Linked DNA regions of Homo sapiens. The protein of the gene in region 3 interacts with the protein of the main gene of each other region in a biochemical or structural test. Each region holds a gene or a part of one and is shown on either strand. Other genes may lie near its edges.

What was found. Proteins that work in one complex are often made in the same cells at the same time.
Region 1: the proteins of SH3GL1 (region 3) and SYNJ1 interact in a test that uses a peptide from one of them, tested with the Homo sapiens proteins (one study listed by BioGRID and IntAct).
Region 2: the proteins of SH3GL1 (region 3) and DNM1 form a complex in vitro, tested with the Homo sapiens proteins (2 studies listed by BioGRID and IntAct, with this or other methods).

What each region holds. Positions count from the first base shown.
Region 1 is NC_000021.9:32,718,014-32,725,013, reverse strand, and holds part of SYNJ1 (synaptojanin-1), read left to right. Parts: intron 1-7,000. UniProt on the Homo sapiens protein: Phosphatase that acts on various phosphoinositides, including phosphatidylinositol 4-phosphate, phosphatidylinositol (4,5)-bisphosphate and phosphatidylinositol (3,4,5)-trisphosphate. Has a role in clathrin-mediated endocytosis.
Region 2 is NC_000009.12:128,220,379-128,227,378, forward strand, and holds part of DNM1 (dynamin-1), read left to right. Parts: intron 1-1,818; coding exon 1,819-1,961; intron 1,962-2,082; coding exon 2,083-2,218; intron 2,219-2,414; coding exon 2,415-2,482; intron 2,483-3,872; coding exon 3,873-4,011; intron 4,012-5,656; coding exon of another isoform or gene 5,657-5,795; intron 5,796-7,000. UniProt on the Homo sapiens protein: Catalyzes the hydrolysis of GTP and utilizes this energy to mediate vesicle scission and participates in many forms of endocytosis, such as clathrin-mediated endocytosis or synaptic vesicle endocytosis as well as rapid endocytosis (RE).
Region 3 is NC_000019.10:4,397,486-4,404,858, reverse strand, and holds the start of SH3GL1 (endophilin-A2), read left to right. Parts: upstream 1-4,311; 5' UTR 4,312-4,490; coding exon 4,491-4,535; intron 4,536-7,373. Other genes in the region: CHAF1A (chromatin assembly factor 1 subunit A), read right to left, coding at 2,045-2,096. UniProt on the Homo sapiens protein: Implicated in endocytosis. May recruit other proteins to membranes with high curvature.

The sequences.
Region 1 (7,000 bases), on a different chromosome or scaffold from region 3:
TTACCAAAAGGCCCTAAAACATTTATTTTGGCATTAATGTGCATTCTAAGGAGAAAGAATATTAAAATATTGTCTAAGCTATTCTATTTTCATTAGATTTAGACTATGTGAGCAATTCAGAAAAAAAATGTTGGAATATTGACTCTTTCTGTAAAGCTAACATAAATGGATGTCTAATCTCTTGGAATGTCATTATCTTTCCTACTATAAGCTTTACAGTAATACTTAACATATTAATATTTAAGAGCTAACAAACCTTCTTAAGTCATTTGACTTTTAAAATTAATTTGGCCTTCATTTTGGAGTGATACCAAGGTTTGTATTGTGCTGTACAGTGTTCACTTAAAATCTTCACACTTTAAAAATGCCTATTGTATTCAGAAGCTGTGCTTGGAAAATATCAATGTGTTCTCTTCATCTTCAATAATCCCAGCTCCCTGAATTTCAGTGCATTCTGCATATTCATCTACCTGAAGAATCTTCTAAAATCATGTTTTTTCTTTGTTTGTTTGCTTGTTTGTTTTTTGAGACAGGGTCTCACTCTGTTGCCCAGGCTGGAGTGCAGTGGCATGATCTCGGCTCACTGCAACCTCCACCTCCTGGGTTCAAGTGGTTCTCCTGCCTCGGCCTCCCAAGTAGCTGGAATTATAGGTGTGTGCCACCACGCCTTGCTAATTTTTGTATTTTTAGTAGAGACAGGGTTTCATCATGTTGGCCAGGCTGGTCTTGAACTCCTGACCTCAGGTGATTCGCCTGCCTCAGCCTCCCAAAGTGCTGGGATTACAGGCGTGAGCCACCGCGCCCAGCCCTAAAATCATTTTTTATATTAAAGCAAAGTGTAACCCTGTTTTTCACCAAGATTAAGTTTGTACTCCTCAACCTGTCATTTGTCCAGTGTTGATCTCCTTTAAGGAGATCTGGTGTTTCCTCAGTGCCTTCCCAAGCACCATGCTTTTTTCAGCTTCATCATACTGTTGCTTTTTACACCTTCTTCCTCCAAGACAGCTAGAGTGCTGCTTCTCTAATCTGAGCCTGTCAGTCCCACCGAGGTCCTACTCAGGTCTTCTTCCTTCATAAGACTCTGCCCCAACCACTCCAGCTCACCTTTATCTCTACCTTCTCTTCATTTCTCTAGAACTTACTCTGTATCACAAGGTGCATACTTCTTTTTTGCTTTTATTTTTTGAGACATGGTCTTGTTCTGTCACCCAGGCTGGAGTGCAGTGGCATGATCACAGCTCACTGTAATTGAACTCCCTGGAACTCCCGGGCTCAATTGATCCTCCTGCCTCAGCCTCCTGAGTAGCTGGGACTACAGGCGCACACGACTATGCCCAGATAATTTTTTTCGTATTTTTTTGTAGATAGGGGGCTTCCTCATGTTGCCCTGCTGATCTCAGACTCCTGGGTTCATGGTTTCCACCTGCCTCAGGCTCCCAAAGTATTGGGATTACAGGCGTGAGCCACTGCTCGCAGCCAAGACGCATACTTCTTATGTGCTGGTTTTGTTGTTGTCTAAATGCTCATATGTAGGTGTTTTTCTTGGAAAGGGGTGGTGGAAGTGACCTTAGCAGGACTTGGTCTTTATGTACACAAAGTTCCTAATTTCAAGTCTCTACTTGCCCTGGCTTTACTTTAAAAAGTAAATTTTAAACAGACATTTTAGTCAGCATACAGTGTTGAGGATTAGCAATCACTTAATTTTCTTGGCCTTTGCTGAAGTGCCATGAGATACCCAACATGAAATTTTGTCTTTCATACTATTAGCACATACCAAAAGATTGCAAGTAAAAATACAATGAAAATAGTCTCATACAATGGATCCCCTTAGGGACCCACGTGTTCACTAATGCAGCCTCAAGACTCTGTCTTTATGTCGATAGGATTCTAAGCTTAAATCAGTCATGATGTTATGACATTATCAGTGTTACAGTCACCTGGGCAGCTTTTACAAATACTACTGTCTGGGCTCTAGCCCCCTGGATATTCTGATATAATTAGATTGTGATGCTCATTTCTGAGCAAAGTGTATTTAGGCCTTTCTATGATAGATTAGGGGATTGCTTTTTTTTGGCTTGCAGATTTTATCCAAAATAACCATGTTTCCAGAATTTTGGTGCTGTTGTCTTTTATGGGGCTACTAAGTAGTTTTCTTGAAACTGTCAGGCTGAACCAAGTGCTAATACTCTTGTAGCACTTTGAGTATAGTGCCTTCATATCATATGGAATTCTGCTCAGGTTCTGTGTCTGGATGCCGCACTCCTTGAGGAAAAGGCCTGTGTGTCTTAGTAATATTTGCAGTCTTAGTGCTTAGTGTAGTGTTTTACTCATACTTGAAGAAAATGTGATTATTAAATGAATGACAGCAAGGGAAAGACTAACCTAGATTACAAAGTTGATAAACATGCAGTTATTATGTTTGAAAATAAGAGATATTTTTCCGTAAATTTTTGTTGTTGTTTTTTGAGCAGAGTCTTGTTCTGTCACTGAGGCTGGAGTGCAGTGGTATGATCTCCGTGCACTGCAACCTCCGCCTCCTGGGTTCAAGTGATTCTCGTGCCTCAGCTTCCTGAGTAGCTGGGACTACAGGCGCACACCAACATGCCCAGCTAATTTTTGTATTTTTAGTAGAGATGGGGCTTCACCATGTTGGCCAGGCTGATCTGAACTCGTGAACTCAAGTGATCCACCTGCCTTGGCCTCCCAAAGTGCTGGGATTATAGGCGTGAGCCACCAAGCCCAGCCCTATAAAACTTATTTCATATACATACATGCATACATTATATATATATATATATATATATATATTTTTTTTTTTTTTTTTCTTTGAGATGGAGTTTCATTCTTGTTGCCCAGGCTAGAGTGCAATGGCACGATCTCGGCTCACTGCAACCTCCCCTTCCCAAGTTCAAGTGATTTTCCCGCATCAGCCTCCCAAGTAGCTGGGATTACAGGCATGCGCCATCATACCTAGCTAATTTTGTATTTTTAGTAGAGACAGGGTTTCTCCATGTTGGTCAGGCTGGTCTTGAACTCCCGACCTCAGGTGATCCGCCCGCCTTGGCCTCCCAAAGTGCTGGGATTACAGGCATAAGTCACTGCACCTGGCCTATTTCCTATGTTTTTGAGAATTGTTATCTGACTGAACTGCTGATATAAAAGATGTATATTACACATTATTTAGATTTGTTATTGACAAATCCTATTGGAAATAACTGTTAACCACATTATTAAGGTTCTTCTGAAATGCCAATTTGAAATGTCTATGATAAATGTTACTTATTATTTCTATAAGTACTATTAATTTGTTTCAAAATTACTTTTTTTTTTTTTCCAAGATGGAGTCTTGCTCTGTCACCCAAGTTGGAGTGCAGTGGTGCAATCTTGACTCACTACAGCCTCCGCCTCCTGGGTTCAAGGAGTTCTCCTGCCTCAGCCTCCTGAGTAGCTGGGACCACAGGCGCCCCCCACCACACCTAGCTAATTTTTCCTTATTTTTAGTAGAGACAGGGTTTCACCATGTTGGCCAGGCTGGTCTCAAACTCCTGACCTTGTGATCCACCCACCTCAGCTTCCCAAAGTGCTGAGATTATAGGCGTGAGCCACCACGCCTGGCCTTCAAAATTACCTGTTTAAAATAGAAAATAATTTCATTATTATTTCTTCTGTTGCATTGATTTATTTAAAACACTTTCTAAAAAGTTCTTACCCTTAGATAACAGTTAATATGTTTTTTAGGAGTGTACCCATTTTTAGCATTACTCAGTTTTGAAAAGTATTTGTACAGCAAGTGTTTGATTAAATTGCAATTTGATGTCTTTGGAATAGTGGTTCAGTGTAGCAGGTGAGCTCTGTGACTAGTTTGCTGCATCTACCAGTTTAAGCAGCTTGTGTGATGGTTAGCAAGTTATAAACAGGTACATATTTTTTTCCTGGAAACAATTTATTAAGAGATAAAAGATGTCTCTCAGCTTTGTGTACAATTCATTGTTCTTAGTCTTTCTCCAGTTTACACACACATACACAAAGACTGTCACAGGAGAAGGACAAGCTGTCAGTCTGACATACATGCATTAAATTCACAATCTCAATATTTTACAGCCCATCTCAGGCTTCAATAAAGTGAATGATTCATTTCATAATTATATCCTAAATAGAAGATGGAGTAAAGAAAAGGTCAACATATGGGAAATGGAGGATAACTCTAAAAACAGAAGTTATGGACCTCTACGTAAAAGATGGGGAGGTGAGGTGGCGCCATGGATTCCTAACTCTTAAAATTAAAGCTTTTGCTCTTTTCCATATTACATGCTAGCATGGGAGTAAGGATGAATTGCTTTTATCTGTCTAGTGGTAAGATTACTTTCAGGCTTTTCAAGTAGCATAATTTGAGTCAGATTAGGACTCAAATCATGCATTTTATAAATAGCAAGGCCATATCACTGCACCTGGTTTTCCTCCAAGTTGTCCTTATGAGATTCTTTGTCTACCTAATTTTTTCTTACAACATAAGTCATAATACTATATATAATACTCAATATAAGTCATAATACTATAGGATGATATTCTGAGATCTTTATTACAGAATATGAAATATCCTCTCTTTTCTATAAAACTGCGTAAAGGACTAATCGTAGTGAAATGATAATGGCTACCACTTACTGGAAGCTTATTCTGCCAGTCACAACATTAAGCCAGAGGTTTTTAAACTTCATTGTTTTATGGTGACCTTATTATCTCATTAAGTTGTTTTTGTTTTTGTTTTTGTTTTTGAGAGGGAGAGTTTCGCTCTTGTTGCCCAAGCTGGAGTGCAATGGTGCGATCTCGGCTCACTGCAACCTCTGCCTCCCGGGTTCAAGCAGTTCTCCTGCCTCAGCCTCCCAAGTAGCTGGGATTACAGGCATGTGGCACCACGCCCAGCTAATTTTGTATTTTTAGTAGAGACGGGGTTTCTCCATGTTGGTCAGGCTGGTCTTGAGCTCCTGACCTCAGGTGATCTGCCCACCTCGGCCTTCCAAAGTCCTGGGATTACAGGTGTGAGCCACTGTGCCTGGCCTCGTTAAGTTTTTCACAACACCCCTAGGCCACAAACAATACTTAATAGTTCTGTTTATTAAATAGTTAGGTCCAAAAAATATTTGTGTCCCAACAGCTTTTGTAGCTGTTCAAAAAAAAAAATGCAGAAAAAATAGAACATTTATTTTCTTCATAAGTAACCACAATTTACTAATGAGATGTGTGTGCTTGTTGAGCACTGAGCACTAAATAGCTTTTCTTTTTCTTTCTTTTTTTTTTTTTTTAAGATGGAGTTTTACTCTTGTCACCCAGGTTGGAGTGCAATGGCACGGTCTCGGCTCACTGCAACCTCTGCCTACGGGTTCAAGCAATTCTCCTGCCTCAGCCTCTCAAGTAGCTGGGATTGCAGGCACCCGCTACCACACCTGGCTAATGTTTGTATTTTTAGTAGAGACGGGGTTTCACCATGTTGGCCAGGCTGGTCTCGAACTCCTGACCTCAGGTGATCTGCCCACCATGGCCTTCCAAAGTGCTGGGATTACGGGCGTGAGCCACTGCTCCCAGCCTGCATAGCTTTTCAAACCTTGGAACAGAGTACACTGCCGTCCTCATTTCCTGTTCCACATTGATTTTCAAGTGACACTTGCTTTTATCACAGCAACCAGCAAAAACCCGGTTTCACTAATATATATCATCCAAGGAATGCACTGCAATCTAATATGACAACTCAAGCACCTCAGGTTAATAGTTTGGCTGGTTTCCAGCATGTGTTGAGAATCTCAGTGTTTCCTTCTGTTTAAAATATGCAGCTTCCCTGGGAGTTTGCTGTAGTGCCGTGGGGCATCTGAGCACACAGTTCAGGAGATGTGGCATTTGACACACTTTATTTCATTCAGTTCAGATTGTGCTTTTATCCACATTTCAGAGATTTGGAAACTGAGGATTGGAAAGATAACTGCCCCAATGACATAGTCCTACCATTTAATTTTTTTTTACTGTAATTATTGTTTGTGCTGTTGTGAGGCTATTGTATTACCATATATTGTGTGGCTATTATTTTCAGGGGTGGGGAATGAAGTGTAAAAATAAGGGAAGGCGTTAAGGTTAAGAGTGTAATTGGTAGCATTTTCTAATGAGGGAACTGTACACTTGTGTTTTTCCCTACAAACTATTAACATATTAATATATTAGAGGAGAAAGTATGGTTTAATTTACAGTAAAGTCATTAAAAACAAAGTTTCTTTCCTGGGCCAAGTTAAATGTCAGGTTCTAGACTTTTGGATAAATATAGTAGGTGGTAATGCCAAACAGTGTGTGTAGTTTGTTTTTTTTTTTTAATTGCCAAACGCTGTCAACATGATTGCCCTTTAGATAAGTTGCAGTGTCCTGTCTCTTTTAAAGAAAAATTTGCAAGTTGAGGGAAGAAGTGACTTTTTATAGTTGACTTTTTCAGCAGAGAAATCATGAAATTTAGACTTGTTATATATCACTTTATGTTAGGGTTGCAAAAATTCATTTTCTTTTTATAAATACCTTTGGAAGGTGCATATTTATTTTCTTTCTTTTTTTATGTGCCCCTGTAGTCTGAGGAATGTACGTATTTAATAGAAAGTAACTTAAATGTCAACTCTTTAAAAAGAAAATCAACCAAACTTTTTTATTCTGGGTTGGTAGTAGGATTGACCTAGGGTCAAACCAGTAGTTAGTTCTTAAGTGCTTTCATTTCTTCACCACTTAACTTTGCTATGAGGAAATAAAAAGGAAAGGCAGAACTTCCACTCTCACTGAATAGTAAAAACTCTGTGGCTTTTTATTACATCATCTCAGGTCTATCAGATGTTCTAACTTGTCCTATAAAATATACGTAACTCAGGACTATAACGGGAGCTTCTGACCATAGTGGAGTAACAGGAACTAGATTTACCCTCCTACCTTAAGTAACAACAACAAAATGAACAAAATACATGGAATGATTTGCAGACCT
Region 2 (7,000 bases), on a different chromosome or scaffold from region 3:
GCATGAAAACAGGATAAATTAAGTGTGTTCTGAGAGTGAACAGCAGAGGTTAGCCTCTCCGTAGTGCAGATAGACAAACTGAGCCTCAGAAAAGCAAAGCAACTTGCCCACAGCCCCACAGCTAGGTAGCAGCAAAGCTTCACTGACCTTTCCCTGTCTGGGACCTGCCAGGGAAGCCCTGGAAGTCCCCAACACAGAGAAGGCCAAGACCTATGTGGAGGGTGTCATGGGGAAGAGCTTGGGTTTGGGGGCCAGGATTCAAGTATACTCGGCTGAAGACCTTGACAGGGAATCCCAGGGGCTTCCCCAGGACTTTTCTCCATCTGGAATGGGGCATCCAGAACTGAAGTGCGCGCGCGCGCGCGTGTGTGTGTGTGTGTGTGTGTGTGTCTGTCTGACTGTCTGTCTGTGTAGGCAAGACCTGGTTTCCAATCCCAGTTTTGTCACTCCCCCTCTGAGACACTCTCTCTGGCTCTCTGAGCCTCTATTTCTTTTTTCTTTATTTGTTTTCTTTCTTTCTTTCTTTCTTTCTTTCTTTCTTTCTTTCTTTCTTTCTTTTCTTTTCTTTCTTTCTTTCCTTTCTTCTTTCTTTCTTTCTCTTTCTTTCTTTCTTTCCCTTCCTTCCTTCCTTCCTTCCTTTCTTTCTCTTTCTTTCTTTCTCTCTTTCTTTCTCTCTTTCTCTCTTTCTTTCTCTCTTTCTCTCTTTCTCTCTTTCTTTCTTTCTCTCTTAGATGGAGTTTTGCTCTTGTCACCCAGGCTGGAGTGCAATGGTGCGATCTCAGCTCACTGCAACCTCTGCCTCCTGGATTCAAGGGATTCTCCTACCTCAGCCTCCCAGGTAGCTGGGATTACAGGCACACACCACCACGCCTGGCTAATTTTTGTATTTTTAGTAGAGACGGGGTTTCACCATGTTAGCCAGGCTGGTCTCGTACTCCTGACATCAGGTGATCTGCCCGCCTTGGCCTCCCAAAGTGCTGGGATAACAGGCATGAGCCATAATCGTGCCTGGCCTCTGAGCCTCTATTTCTGCATCTGTAAAATGGAGACAATGGTGATCAGACCTGTTTCATAGGATTGTTGTAAAGGTTCAGGGAGATACTGTGTGGGGGCACCTAGTGAGCATGAGTGCTAGAACTTGAGAATGACCTTAAAGGAGGCTTTAAACCCAGAGGGTCCAAGGGGCAGCCCTCTGGCCACCCCTGCCTCAGACGCACGTCTAAAAATATTAAATTGGGATGGTATGGTGGTTCATGCCTGTAATCCCACCACTTTGGGAGGCTGAGGCGGGTGGATCACTTGAGGCCAAAAGTTCGACACCAGCCTGGCCAACAAGGCGAAAACCTGTACTAAAAATACAAAAAATTAGCTGGGCATGGTGGTGCACGCCTGTAGTCCCAGTTACTTGGGAGGCTGAGGCAGGAGAATTGCTTGAAACTGGGAGGCAGAGATCGCAGGTTGCAGTGAGCTGAGATCACGCCATTGCACTCCAGCCTGGGTGACGAGTGAAACTCCGTCTCAAAAAAATAATAATAATAAATAAAAATAAAAAGATTAAATTGGCCAAAAATCAGGAAATTCCAAATACAAATCCAGATTTCTGGCTTTATTGAAAATTATGCACTCATTAATTCAACTAATACATCTCTGCAAGCTCCTTCTATGAACCAGTTTTCTTGCTAGTGGCCCGGGCAGCAGTGGCAGGGCTGCCCTCCATAGCTCTCCACCTCACCACGTTCACACAGTCCCCTGGCATCCAAGTCCCTTCCTGGCCCTGTGACCATCTGTCCTCAACCCTTTCCTCACCCTTACCCCCAGCAACTGACGAACCACATCCGGGACACACTGCCGGGGCTGCGGAACAAGCTGCAGAGCCAGCTACTGTCCATTGAGAAGGAGGTGGAGGAATACAAGAACTTCCGCCCTGATGACCCAGCTCGCAAGACCAAGGCCCTGCTGCAGTGAGGCTCCCCCAGCTCCTATCACTGAATCCCCGCCCCCAGCCTCTCAGCGTGGGGCTCTCCCAGGGTTCCCTTTGCTGGGCTGCTCCTGCCCCCTCAGGCCACACCACTCTCCCACCAGGATGGTCCAGCAGTTCGCCGTAGACTTTGAGAAGCGCATTGAGGGCTCAGGAGATCAGATCGACACCTACGAACTGTCAGGGGGAGCCCGCATTAACCGAATCTTCCACGAGCGCTTCCCTTTCGAGCTGGTCAAGGTAGGTCAGGCAGCCCTGGGGACAGGATGGCTCAGGACTCCCCCCACCCTCACTCAGGACTCTCTCTGCGTGTGTTTTTGCTGGCCCCCACCCCACAGGCCCTGATGCCCAGCCCTAGGTGTGGGGTGGGCCCTGTCTTGACCTCCCAGGTAGTAGGACAGGCCCTGACCAGGCTTTTCTCTGCTTTTCTACACAGATGGAGTTTGATGAGAAGGAACTCCGAAGGGAGATCAGCTATGCTATCAAGAATATCCATGGCATTAGGCACGTATTGGGGCCTGGGAGGGTGGCTGAACCCCAGAAGTAGGGGGTCTGGGACAGAGGCACAGGGAGTGATGAAGTGGGCCTCCCTCAGGAAGGACTGAAAGCTCTGTTCCCCAGTCCTCTCGACCCCAACTTTCTGGCTCCCTGCATGACAGGCTCCAGCTTGGGGAGGTGGACCCGGGCCACCCCGCCTACTGCAACTTGCTGGGCCAACTGGGCACAGCCCAGGGCGCAGGTGGCCGGGGAAACACCCTCTGGGGCTGGGCCCATCCCCAGGGTGAGATAGCTCCCCCAGTGCCACCCAGGTAACCGGACAAAGATGTCCAAACCACTACGAGGGCCTGGGGTGGAGCATCTAAGTATGAGGCTGTGTCCTTTTATGACGGCCGGGGACTTTGCAATCCTCCACACCCTCCTGTATTCACAGTAGCCCAGAGTCAGTCCCATTCCACCCCACCGCCCTCCTTCTAGGCAACCCGTGGAGTAGGAAACAGGATTGGGAGGTGGAATCTGTTCCTTAAAAGCTTAGATCCCCTTCAGGGACCCAGATCTATGCTGTGTTCATCCAACAAATCCACTGGGCCGGAAAATTTAAAGCACCTACCCTATGCCAAGCAGTGAACAAGACCCAGTGTCCCCTTGCTCTCATGCAGGTTCATTTCCAAGATTTGGCATGGAATTTACTTCCTGATAACTGCACTGGCCAATTCACAGAAAAAAGATCTCTTTCCTAGTCTTAAAACAAAACACTCTATTCCTGGAAAGGCTCTTATGGAGAACCACGTTTGGCAATTTTCAAGCCATTTCTGGCCATAGAACTTCCTATATGCACAGACCCTTACGAGGAAGCAGGACTTACATATCAGATACTCAACCACCTTGTCTTGCCCCAAAGAGCCTCATTAGGGCCGGGCGCGGTGGCTCACGCCTGTAATCCCAGCACTTTGGAAGGCCGAGGCAGGCGGATCATGAGGTCAGGAGATCGAGACCATCCTGGCTAACACGGTGAAACCCTGTCTCTACTAAAAATACGAAAAAATTAGCCGGGCGTGGTGGCAGGCGCCTGTAGTCCCAGCTACTTGGGAGGCTGAGGCAGGAGAATGGCGTGAACCCGGGAGGCGGAGGTTGCAGTGAGCCAAGATTGCGCCACTGCACTCCAGCCTGGGCGACAGAGCAAGACTCCGTCTCAAAAAAAATAACAACAACAACAAAAAACCCTTCATTAGAACCCCTCCCTCCCATTTTACAACTGGGGACACTGAGGCCCAGAGAGGGGTAGTGGAAGGGCCCCTCAGGCAGAGTTCGTGGGCTTGGGGAGGAGCCTCGGCCTGGCCCTCCTGGCCGGCACTGGCCTGTGACACTCTGCCCTTCTCCCGCTCCGGGCGTTCAGAACGGGGCTGTTTACCCCAGACATGGCCTTTGAGACCATTGTGAAAAAGCAGGTGAAGAAGATCCGAGAACCGTGTCTCAAGTGTGTGGACATGGTTATCTCGGAGCTAATCAGCACCGTTAGACAGTGCACCAAGAAGGTAACCCGGAGGCCCGGGCCAGCCCCCACCGCCTCTGCCCCGCCCTGCACTGCTGCCAGGCGCTCCTTCCCCATGTCCCCCCCTGCCTCCTCGGTAGCATGTACAGACCTCAGCGGGGTGGGGAGGCAGGCCACCACTGAATAGGAGACAATGTGCCTCTGAGAGGGCCTCACCCACCCCTGGCCCCCAGGTCTGGGGACCCAGGGATTGGACATGGGTGAGACGGGGATGATGGCTGGCTGTTTACCCCAAGAGCCCACCAAGAGCTCCCCCAGCTCAGAGAATAGGGCTTGAGGGGACCCTGAGCCCCCTCCCTGTCCTCGGAGGTGTCATCTTTGGGAGCTCCAGGGAGGGGTCTGGGGAAACCTTAGCCTTGGAGACAGGTGAAATGCAGGGCCTTCTCGGGCACTGCTCGGTGGGCCTGGGTGGCCAGAGGGGGTGCAGAGGACCCAGGACTAGCAGGTGCCCTGGCTCCCCGCTGTCCTTCATCCTCCCCATACTCATCTCACCCTCACTCAGGACCCTCACACAGGATGCTCACGTAAGACCCTCACTCAGGGCCTCTCCCTCCCTTCCATCCACATCTGGCTTTCCAGGGATAGAGCCCTTCTCCCATCTGCCCCACCATCCAAGCCTCACAGAAGCACGCAGGGAGGCAGGACAGGGAGGACGGTGCCCATTTCACAGCACGAACACTGAAGCTCCAGGAGATCAAGTGGCTTGCCCAAGTCACAGTAGTCAGGAGGTGGCAGAGCTGTTACTTGAAGCCACGGCTCTGGACTCCAAGTCCAGTGCTCCTCGATTCCACCCTCCAGCCTCCCTTCCTTTCCTCTCCCCACTGCTGTCCCGGCCCCTCTCTATCACTACCTCTACTCTTTCTGTCTTTCCTCTTCTCTTTCTGTCTTTTGGTTCCACCAAACCCCTGTGGAGGAGAGGCCAGGAATGCCCCTTGAAGAGAAAGGGAGGGGCGGGACTAGAGCAGGGAGCTGGAGAGGGAGGTCAGGCTGCTATACTGCAACCCTAGGAGGCAGCCTCTGCGCCACGGTTTACGGGAATGGACCCCCCTGGAGTTGTGCAGTGCATGGCCTGGGCAGCTGGATGCGGCAACCCTAGAGATAGGGAATGGTACTGAGGTTTGGAGTCAGGATGAAGCAAATTCTGGGACACTGGGAAACGTAGAATTGAACAGGATGGGTGGATGAGGTCCTGGCCTTGTCCTGGCCTGGGTCAGCTCCTTAGGAGAACCCAAGGCTGTGGACAAAGACGGCACTGGGAGAGAGCAGGCAGCCTCAGTGAGGCCGAGGAGCAGGGGAGCATCCCTGGGAAGAGGATCTGAACTCAATAGGGGTCTTGTACGGAGCAGGGGCTTGGTCCCTCGTACCTCTGGCCATACCTATGGAGCCCAGGGGATGCTTGGCAGCACCTGGGAGGTGCCAACCCCGGGTGGCAAGGGAGGGCCGGTCCCACGCTCACATTGTCTTCTGTTCTCTCTCTCTCTTTATCTGTGTCGATGTCTCTCTCTCTTCCCCCGTGCCCGTGCCATCCTCTCCACCCCTGGATTCCTGTCTCTGCTTGGCTTTCACCCACTTCTCCTCCCCACCCACGGCTGCTCCTCCTCCTGTCCCCACCTCCTCCCCGGGTGCAGGACGGGCCTCTTCACACCTGACCTCGCTTTTGAAGCCACAGTGAAAAAGCAGGTGCAGAAGCTCAAAGAGCCCAGTATCAAGTGTGTGGATATGGTAGTCAGTGAGCTCACAGCCACCATCAGAAAGTGTAGCGAAAAGGTATGACGGCCGCCTGGGCGGGGCTGGGCCTGGCCGTCCATTCCTTGTGGCCACAGCCTCCCGTGGGCAGAAGGATCTGCTGAGCCGGCCTCACGGCTACCCGCAGGGACCCAGCCCTAGTGTTTCCTGCCAGTTTCTAACCCTGGGTACTTGCACTCATGACCCCTCCAGGCCCCCATCCCAGAAGACTTGACTCCAACCCAAGCCTCCTTGGTGGCACCTATGCTAGTGATGAAGATGATGTTAAGGAGATGGCAGCTGTTTACTGAGCACCTACTATGTGCCAAGCACACGCTAAGTGCTTGCCCTTACTATCTGACTCAGTCCTCTCAACCACCCTAAGACGTGGGTAGTGTTGTTATTCCCATTTTGCAGATGGCAAAACAGAGTCTCAGAAAAGAGAAGCAGAGTGTGATTCAGTTTTAGGAAGGACAGAGGAAGGGGTCTGAGGTCAGGGCCTCCTGGGCAGGGGGAGCTGTCCTAGTTCCTCAAAACCAATTTGCCTGAAAGCATATTGGATTACTCACTTTACAGTAATCCGTGCGTGAGAGACAGGGGCGGTCTCTTTTGAGTTGTCTGTGACTTTTTAGATGCCTTTTTCCTATTTGTCTGCTTTTGGGCATTTTGAGGATTTTTAGCCAGGTTGTCTAAAGCAGTTCTTCCCAGGGGAGTGCGAGAGAATCAGTTGCCTGCAGGAGCTTCTCCAGCAGGCTAAATCAGAGGTGCCAGGGGTGAGCCCAGCCTCACCTATATCTGAAGGACTTCCCTATGCTGGTGGGTGGAGGCACATCCACCTTAGCATTGAGTTTCAAATAAGCATCAATCATCTCCATTCCTTTTTTTTTTTTTTTTTTTTTTTGAGATGGAATCTTGCTCTGTCGCCCAGGCTGGAGTGCAGTGGCACCATCTTGGCTCACTGCAACCTCTGCCTCCTGGGTTCAAGTATTCTCCTGCCTCAGCCTCCCGGGTGGCTGGGATTACTAGCATGTACCACCACACCTGGCTAATTTTTGTATTTTTAGTAGAGATGGGGTTTTGCCACGTTGGCCAGGCTGGTCTTGAACCCCTGACCGGAGGTGATCCACCTGCCTCGGCCTCCCAAAGTGCTAGGATTACAAACATGAGCCACCGCGCATTCTTTTTTACTGAGCAGTGTGTTGTGTAATCCTTGTATGTTGCTACATAAAGATTGGTCTCATGCCTTT
Region 3 (7,373 bases):
TCTCAAGAAACCATCTAATAATATCAAAGCAGATGCAGCAGTGATCATAAATAGAAGCGAGTCTTTAGATAAATACCTTAAACAGAGTAAGTTTAGGAAGCTCACACTTACCAGGAGATCTGGCTTGGCAAAACCTAGTTTAGTTATTTTGGTTAATCTACGTATGTTTTGTAAGCATTACATAAAAGTGAGTACTTTTTAAAAGCAGACTGGGGCTTCCTAAAAAACTCCATCGTCCATACATGAAACCACCCCTCACCCACCGCCCCAAGCTTAGTGAATAAGAAAAGGTACTGAGAAAATTCATGTTTCCTTTCTAGCCACTTCAAAGAAATAAAGACAGTATCATTCTCAAGTGTCCACTTACCAAAAGCCATGGATTTCTACCCCCTAACTGAAGGATATGATTTTTAGTCACTTAACTTTATTTTCGAGACAATCACAAAAATCTATTTGTGTGGCTTTGAGTCACTAGCTTTGGTGCAAGTGGAACAGAAACAACCTCATTAAAAACAGGACCCACCCTCATTAAAAAATCTTGTATATAAAACGGGACACTCCCAATCCAGAGATCCAAAGATACACACGATTAACACATATGTGTGTATAAAGTTACTAACTGCTCTTTATTCTGCGATTACATCCTTTCTAATTTTATTTGGCACTAAAATATACTTTCCTTTCATGATAGCATGGTCCTAGCGAGTAGCGATTTTTTTTTTTAAAGTTAAATATCCTGGCCAGGCATGGTGGCTCATGCCTGTAATCCCAGCATTTTGGGAGGCCAATGCAGGTGGATTACCTGAGGTCAGAAGTTCGAGACCAGCCTGCCCAACATGGTGAAACCCCGTCTCTACTAAAAAATACAAAAATTAGCCAGGCATGGTGGTGCAGGCCTGTAATCCCAGCTACTTGGGAGGCTGAGGCAGAAGAATCGCTTGAACCAGAGAGGCAGAGGTTGGGCAACAGAGCAAGACTCAGTCTCAAAATAAATAAATAAATAAAGTTAAACATCCTGACTTAAAACATCACAGCTCCACGACAGTACCAACTTTATATTAATTTTATGTCTCCGGGAAATCCCACAGGCTAGAAGGAACTACAGCCATGATTTTCAGCCAAGGCGGAATCTGCCCCATAGGGGACACAGGGCAATGGTATTTCTGGCTGTTACTAAGGCATGGTGAGAGGGGCTGCTACTGGCCTGCAAAAGGCGGAGGCCAGGGATGATGCTTAACACCCTGCAGTGCCGTGCCCAGGACGGCAACAAATATCAACACTGCTGAGGCTGAGAAACTGGACTGGCGTCCATTCTAGCCCTTCATTCGTTCACGTTATTTACTGAGCACCTACTATGTGCCAAAGCGTAATGCCAAGTGCTGCCAAAGCGTTATGTAATGCAGAGTCCAGCAAGGGAGAGGGACAGTCTGGTCTTCCTTGGTTCACCCTCCCACGTTTCAGGAGGCCTGTGGTGGGCTCCAAAGACCCCATTCCAAGGCACACGGAGGAGGAAGTCACGGTGCATATCAGGAAGGAGCAAGAACTCGGGAGTCCCACCCTCCTGGCCATCTCTACCATCTGGGCCTCTTCTTACCCGGGCTTACCCCGACCCTCAGCGGCATCGGTACTGGTCCCCGAGCCCGTGCGACCTTGGGCCTCAGTTTCCCCACCCGCTGCAAGGTCCAACATGGTCAAGGGACACAAACGCATCCAGTAACCTGCAGGGCAAGCCCTTTCGCTTCCCTGGGCCTCAGTTTCCCCTCTCGGCCCCTCCGACCCACCGCCCCAGAGAGTCCTGGAGGGACGAACTGACGCAAAAGCGCCGGAAACAAACAATATGGTCGCGGCTACAACAATAACGTCAACAAGGGTGCCCTTGGGGACGCCAGGCCCTCGCTGGGGATGAGAAGGCCCCAGGGGGTGAACGCCCGGCCCGCAGGACCAGGCTTGGCGCCCGGAGGCCCGTCCGCCTCCCATCGCCGCCTCGGCCCGTCCAGGCCGCGCGCCGCGCCCCCCCTTCCCCTCGGCGCGGGCCCGAACCGACCTGTGGCGGCTCCCCTGGCGCCGGGCGCCCCGCACTCCAGCTCCTCCAGCATCGCCCCGGCGGCAGCTCGACCTCCTCTCAGGCGGCGGAGGCGCGGGCTCCCCTCAGGCGGCCGCTGCTCTTCGCCCTCCCGCCCGCGCCGCTGCTGCCGCCGCGGCCGCCGCGCTCGTATTTGGCGGGAACCGCGGCGACCCCCGCAGTCCGCGCGCCAATTGGGCGAGCCCGGGTCACGTGACGGCCCGCCTCGGGAATTGAGGGGCGCCGGGGGCATCCTCGCGAGATCCGTGACTTCCATTCCTCCCAGGGCTCGCCCATTGACATATCCGCGAGGGACTGGGCTTCCCCTCGGAGGCCTGTCATTGGCTGGGAGGAGCTGCCCTGCGATTGGAGGAAGGAGGTGTCAAGCTCATTGCTCTGCGCTGCGACTGGCTGATCGCGTGGGATAGTCCCTAAGAGGAGGGAGGCCCAGGCTCTTACGTCACCAGAACATTTTACGCAAGGCGCAGATGACAACTTGAAAGTGGGATTTAGATGAGGAACCTGGAGTTTTGAGTTTATCCTAATGGGACATCGGCTAAATATAGCAACAGCAATTAAAATTATAAATTGCTTTCTACAAGAACAATAAAACGAAGTCTGGGGAGCGCTTCGGAAGTATTTGACATTCAGTAAATAACATGTAGAATGAGTGAACGAAATGGACGAAATGGATCGTTTCTGGTTTAATCCTCAGGAAATTGGCACATGCTGTTTTCTCTGCCTAGAACAATCTTTTCGCAGCTCTTTTCCTGGCTAATTTATACTTTTCAGATCTTAGATCGTCACCCCAGGAAGCCTTTTCTTCCCCAACCCTGACAATATCAAGTGCCTACAACACTGTTCTTTTCCTTAAAGCAATTACAGCTGTGTCTATTTATTAGTTTGTTATTTGACTAATGAATTAATTTCTGCCTTTTGTCATTAGTTCTGGCGAGGGTAGGACTCATTCCTCACTGGAACCCCAGGACCTGTTAGTAACTGATCATATTTACCAGGTCAATAAATGTTTGAGTGAATGTATAAATATTTGATTGAACTGTGTAGATCAAGCAGATTAAAAGCCTCACACAAAACAGAGAACTTCAGTGTCAGCCTGTGAGTGTAGAAACAGGTTTTCTTTCTTTCTTTCTTCCTTCCTTCCTTCCTTCCTTCCTTCCTTCCTTCCTTTCTTTCTTTCTTTTTTCTTGAGACGGAGTCCCTAGTAGCTGGGACCACAGGCGCCCGCCACCACGTCCGGCTAATTTTTTCTATTTTTTAGTAGAGACAGGGTTTCACCGTGTTAGCCAGGATGGTCTCAATCTCCTGACCTCGTGATCCGCCCACCTAGGCCTCCCAAAGTGCTGGGATTACAGGCGTGAGCCACCGCCCCTGGCCCTGAATTGCATTCTAGAAGCATCTTTCTGGCTGCCATGACAAGGAAGAATTGGAGGGGAGGACTGGTGGAAAGTATGGTCAAGGCATGAAGACAGACCTAGATGTCTAGATGTGTCACGTGGGCAACTGAATGGATGAACACAGGACAGAGAGAGAGAGGAAGAGAGGTGGCCGGGCACGGTGGCTCATACCTGTGAGACCAGTACTTTGGGAGGCTGGATTTGGTGGGGGGGTTGGGGGTTGGATCACCTGAGGTCAGGAGTTCGAGACCAGCCTGGCCAACATGGCGAAACACTGTCTCTACTAAAAATACAAAAATTAGCCTAGCATGGTGGTGCGCGCCTGTAATCTCAGCTACTTGGGAGGCTGAGGCAGGAGAATCGCTTGAACCCGGGAGGCGGAGGTTGCAGTGAGCCGAGATCACGCCACTGCACTCCAGCCTGGGAGACAAAGCAAGACTCCGTCTCAAAAAAAAAATAAATAAATAAATAAAAATGGGAGGGGGCTGAACACTTAGACGAACTGGATTTAGCTAAGATGAGTAAACAGGAATCTGAAGAATCGTAAGCAGGGGCCCCTTCTACTTCCCAACCTCCCTGGCCAGGTTTAAACTAAGCGCGTTTTCCAAGACGTTAGGGTCACCTCCACGACTCCAGGGGGCGCTGCAACTGCTACGGCCCCTCTAGGCTCGCCCCGCTCAACTCACTGACAGAGGCGGCCTCTCCCGCGGTAGACAATGTGCACGTGCGCTCTTCAGCCGGCAGAGGGCGCGCGTGCGCAGACGGGGCCGGGGGCGCGCGCGGGGGCCGGGGGCGCGCGCGGGGGCCGGCACCGGAAGCGTGCGGTTGCCATGTAATATCCTGGCCGCGCGGGCGCGCGAGCGGCTGAGGCGGCGCCGGGGCGGGCGCGGAGCTGGCAAGCGGGTGGCGGAGGCGGCGCCGACGGGGACTGCTGAGGCGCGCAGAGGGTCGGCGGCGCCCGGGAGCCTGTCGCTGGCGCGGTCCGGGCGGGAGGCTCGGCGGCGGGCGGCAGCATGTCGGTGGCGGGGCTGAAGAAGCAGTTCTACAAGGCGAGCCAGGTGAGCGCAGGCCCAGGCGGGAGCCGAGTACCGGGCCCCGGGCTGCCCGGATGAGGGAGCCAGGCCCGACCTGGCCCGGGAGGGGGCCGGGGGGACCGAGGTGGGGACGTTGGCGCGTGTCCCCTGCCAGGTGGGAAGACCAAGGGACGGACGGGGGCGACGAGGTGGCCCAGGCCCTGCCCGCCATGCGGGCTCCAGAAGCGGGGACAGAGCCCCTGGGAGGAGGGGAGAGGCACCCTGGGCTGCCCAGGGACGCGGACCTCTCCCCTCCTTCTCTCCGCTGCAAAGGCGGGGTGCGGGGAGAGAAGGGGAAGAGAGGAGTCCCGAGGCTGTCGACACAGGACTCTTGCCAGATAACCCAGAGCCAGGGAAAAGTTGCGTCTAGAGCAGTTACGTTCAAAATCCTCTGGATGGGCAAGGTACAAAGTTGAAAAGGTAGAGGAAGAAGTCAGTTTCCCCTCTCTGCTCCTCGGGCAGCCAGCCCTTCTCCCCAGAGACAAGCGACTGTCATCGACTCCGTATGTCCCTTTCCTAAGATACGTGTGTGCCTTTCCTTTAAAAACACGTACCCTGTGATAGCATATGCCACAGAATCCTGTGTGCTGTGTTTTTCATTGCTTGGAGATCACACTGGAGCGGGATTTCTCCCCCTCCGTCGGCACTGTTGACATCTGGGGCTGGATTGTTCTCCGTGGTGGGGCCGTCCTGGGCACTGCGGGGTGCTGAGCAGCGCCCCTGGCCTCCACCCACTCCGGGCCAGGAGCACCCCCAAGTCGTGACAACCAAAAATATCTTGAGACATCACCGTGTGTCCCCTTAGAATCAGTCCTCCTTCCCTCCCTTCGTTCCTTCCTTCCTTCTTTCCTTCCTTCCTCCCTCCCTCCTTGCCTCTCTCCCTCCCTCCCTTCTCTTCTTTCCTTCCTCCCTTCCTTTCCTGTCCCCCAGGACTACTGCTCTAGACCATACTCCACACTTCTTGGATTTTTTTTTTTTTTTTTTTTTTTGAGAGGGAGTCATGCTCTGTCGCCCCAGCTGGAGGGCAGTGGTGCAATCTCGGCTCACTGCAAGCTCCGCCTCCTGTGTTCAAGCAATTCTCCTGCCTCAGCCTCCCCAGTAGCTGGGACTACAGGCATGCGCCACCACGCCCGGCTACTTTTTGTAATTTTAGCAGAGACAGGGTTTCTCCATGTGCCCCAGGGTGGTCTCGAACTCCTGGCCTCAAGTAATCCGCCTGCTTCGGCTTCCCAACATGCTGGGATTATCGACGTAAGCCACCTGCCTGGCCTACTTGGCTCTTTTTAATGGGTACATTGTATTTCATTCCATGACATATACCATAATTTATTTAACCAGTTGTCAGTTGATAGATATCTCTATTGTTTACCGGAATTTTCTGTTACCATTACTACAATAAATAGCCAGTGAATATCTTTGCTCACCAGTGGGATTAGTTTTATAGGATGAATTCCCAGAAGTAGAATGCTGCATCCCAGCCTAAGTGCATTTGATATGGACAGATAAAGGGTTTTTTTTGGAAACTCCAGGGCCCACTGCTCATGAATCTGGTGAAAGCTGTGGATCCACTCTCCAGAAAACTGGGCACATTTAAAATTTTCACTTTGCAATTTCGAATGCAAGAAGCCTCAAATTTGGCCGGGCGCGGTGGCTCATGCCTGGAATCCCAGCAGTTTGGGAGGCCGAGGCGGGCGGATCACTTGAAGCCAGGAGTTTGAGAGCAGCCTGGGCAACATGGCAAAACCCCATCTCTACTAACAATACAAAAATTTTGTATTTTTGCCTGTAACCCCAGCTACTAAGGAGGGTGAGACAGGAGAATCTCTTGAATCCGGCAGGCAGAGGTTGCAGTGAGCCGAGATTGCACCACTGCACTCCAGCCTGGGTGACAGAGCGAGACTCCGTCTTGAAAAAAAAAAAAAGACAAGAAGCCTCAGATTGTTGAATCCTATTGGTCCGTGTACTGCAGGGTGAGGTTGTGTGGAATTTGTGTAGATAGAGTCCACCGAGGAATGAGCAATGATCTTAGCAAATGCTTGGGCCAAGGTGGCAAACAGGGTTCTCTGCCCACAGTTCGGAGATGCCCAGTGGGAGCAAAGAGAAACGAGTCCCCAGTAACACCCAGCAGGTACCTTTGCCCCTGGAAAGAAAAAAGTAAGGACCCTGCCAGGTGCTGTGGCTCATGCCTGTAATCCCAGCACTTTGAAGGCTGAGGCAGGGGTTCCCTTGAGTTCAGGAGTTCAAGACCAGCCTGGGCGATATAGGGAGATCCCATCTCTACAAAATATGAAAAAGTTAGCCAGGTGTGGTGATGTGCACCTGCAGTCCCAGCTACTTGGGAGGCTGAGGCAGGAGGACCACTTGAGCCCAGCAGTTCAAGGCTGCAGTGAACTATGATCGTGCCACTGCACTTCAGCCTGGGCAGCAAAGTGAGACCCTGTCTCAAAAAATAAATAAAAAAAGTAACAACCCTAGTGGTTGTTTAGGGATATAGATACTTAGGGTCTATCTCTACACCCCAGATGATGGTTAAACCCTGGAGAAAGATTTAATCCAGACGAATTTTAGAGTTGTCACTGAGAACAGTCCCACCCCCTTGCCCCAGCACTTTGAAATCAGATGGCCTGGCCCTGGGTTAGACCTTGCCCAGCAGGCGTCAGACCTTCACCTGCTTGGTTAGAGCACCATAGAGTACTGCTCCCTAGCAGGAAAGATGTCCTCAGAGGTCTTGGAGGAATTCCTGGGCCACTTTGTTCCCTGCTATAGACAGGTCTCTGGAAGCCACCACCCCCACTCCCAGCGATCAGGGCCTGTGCCCATATT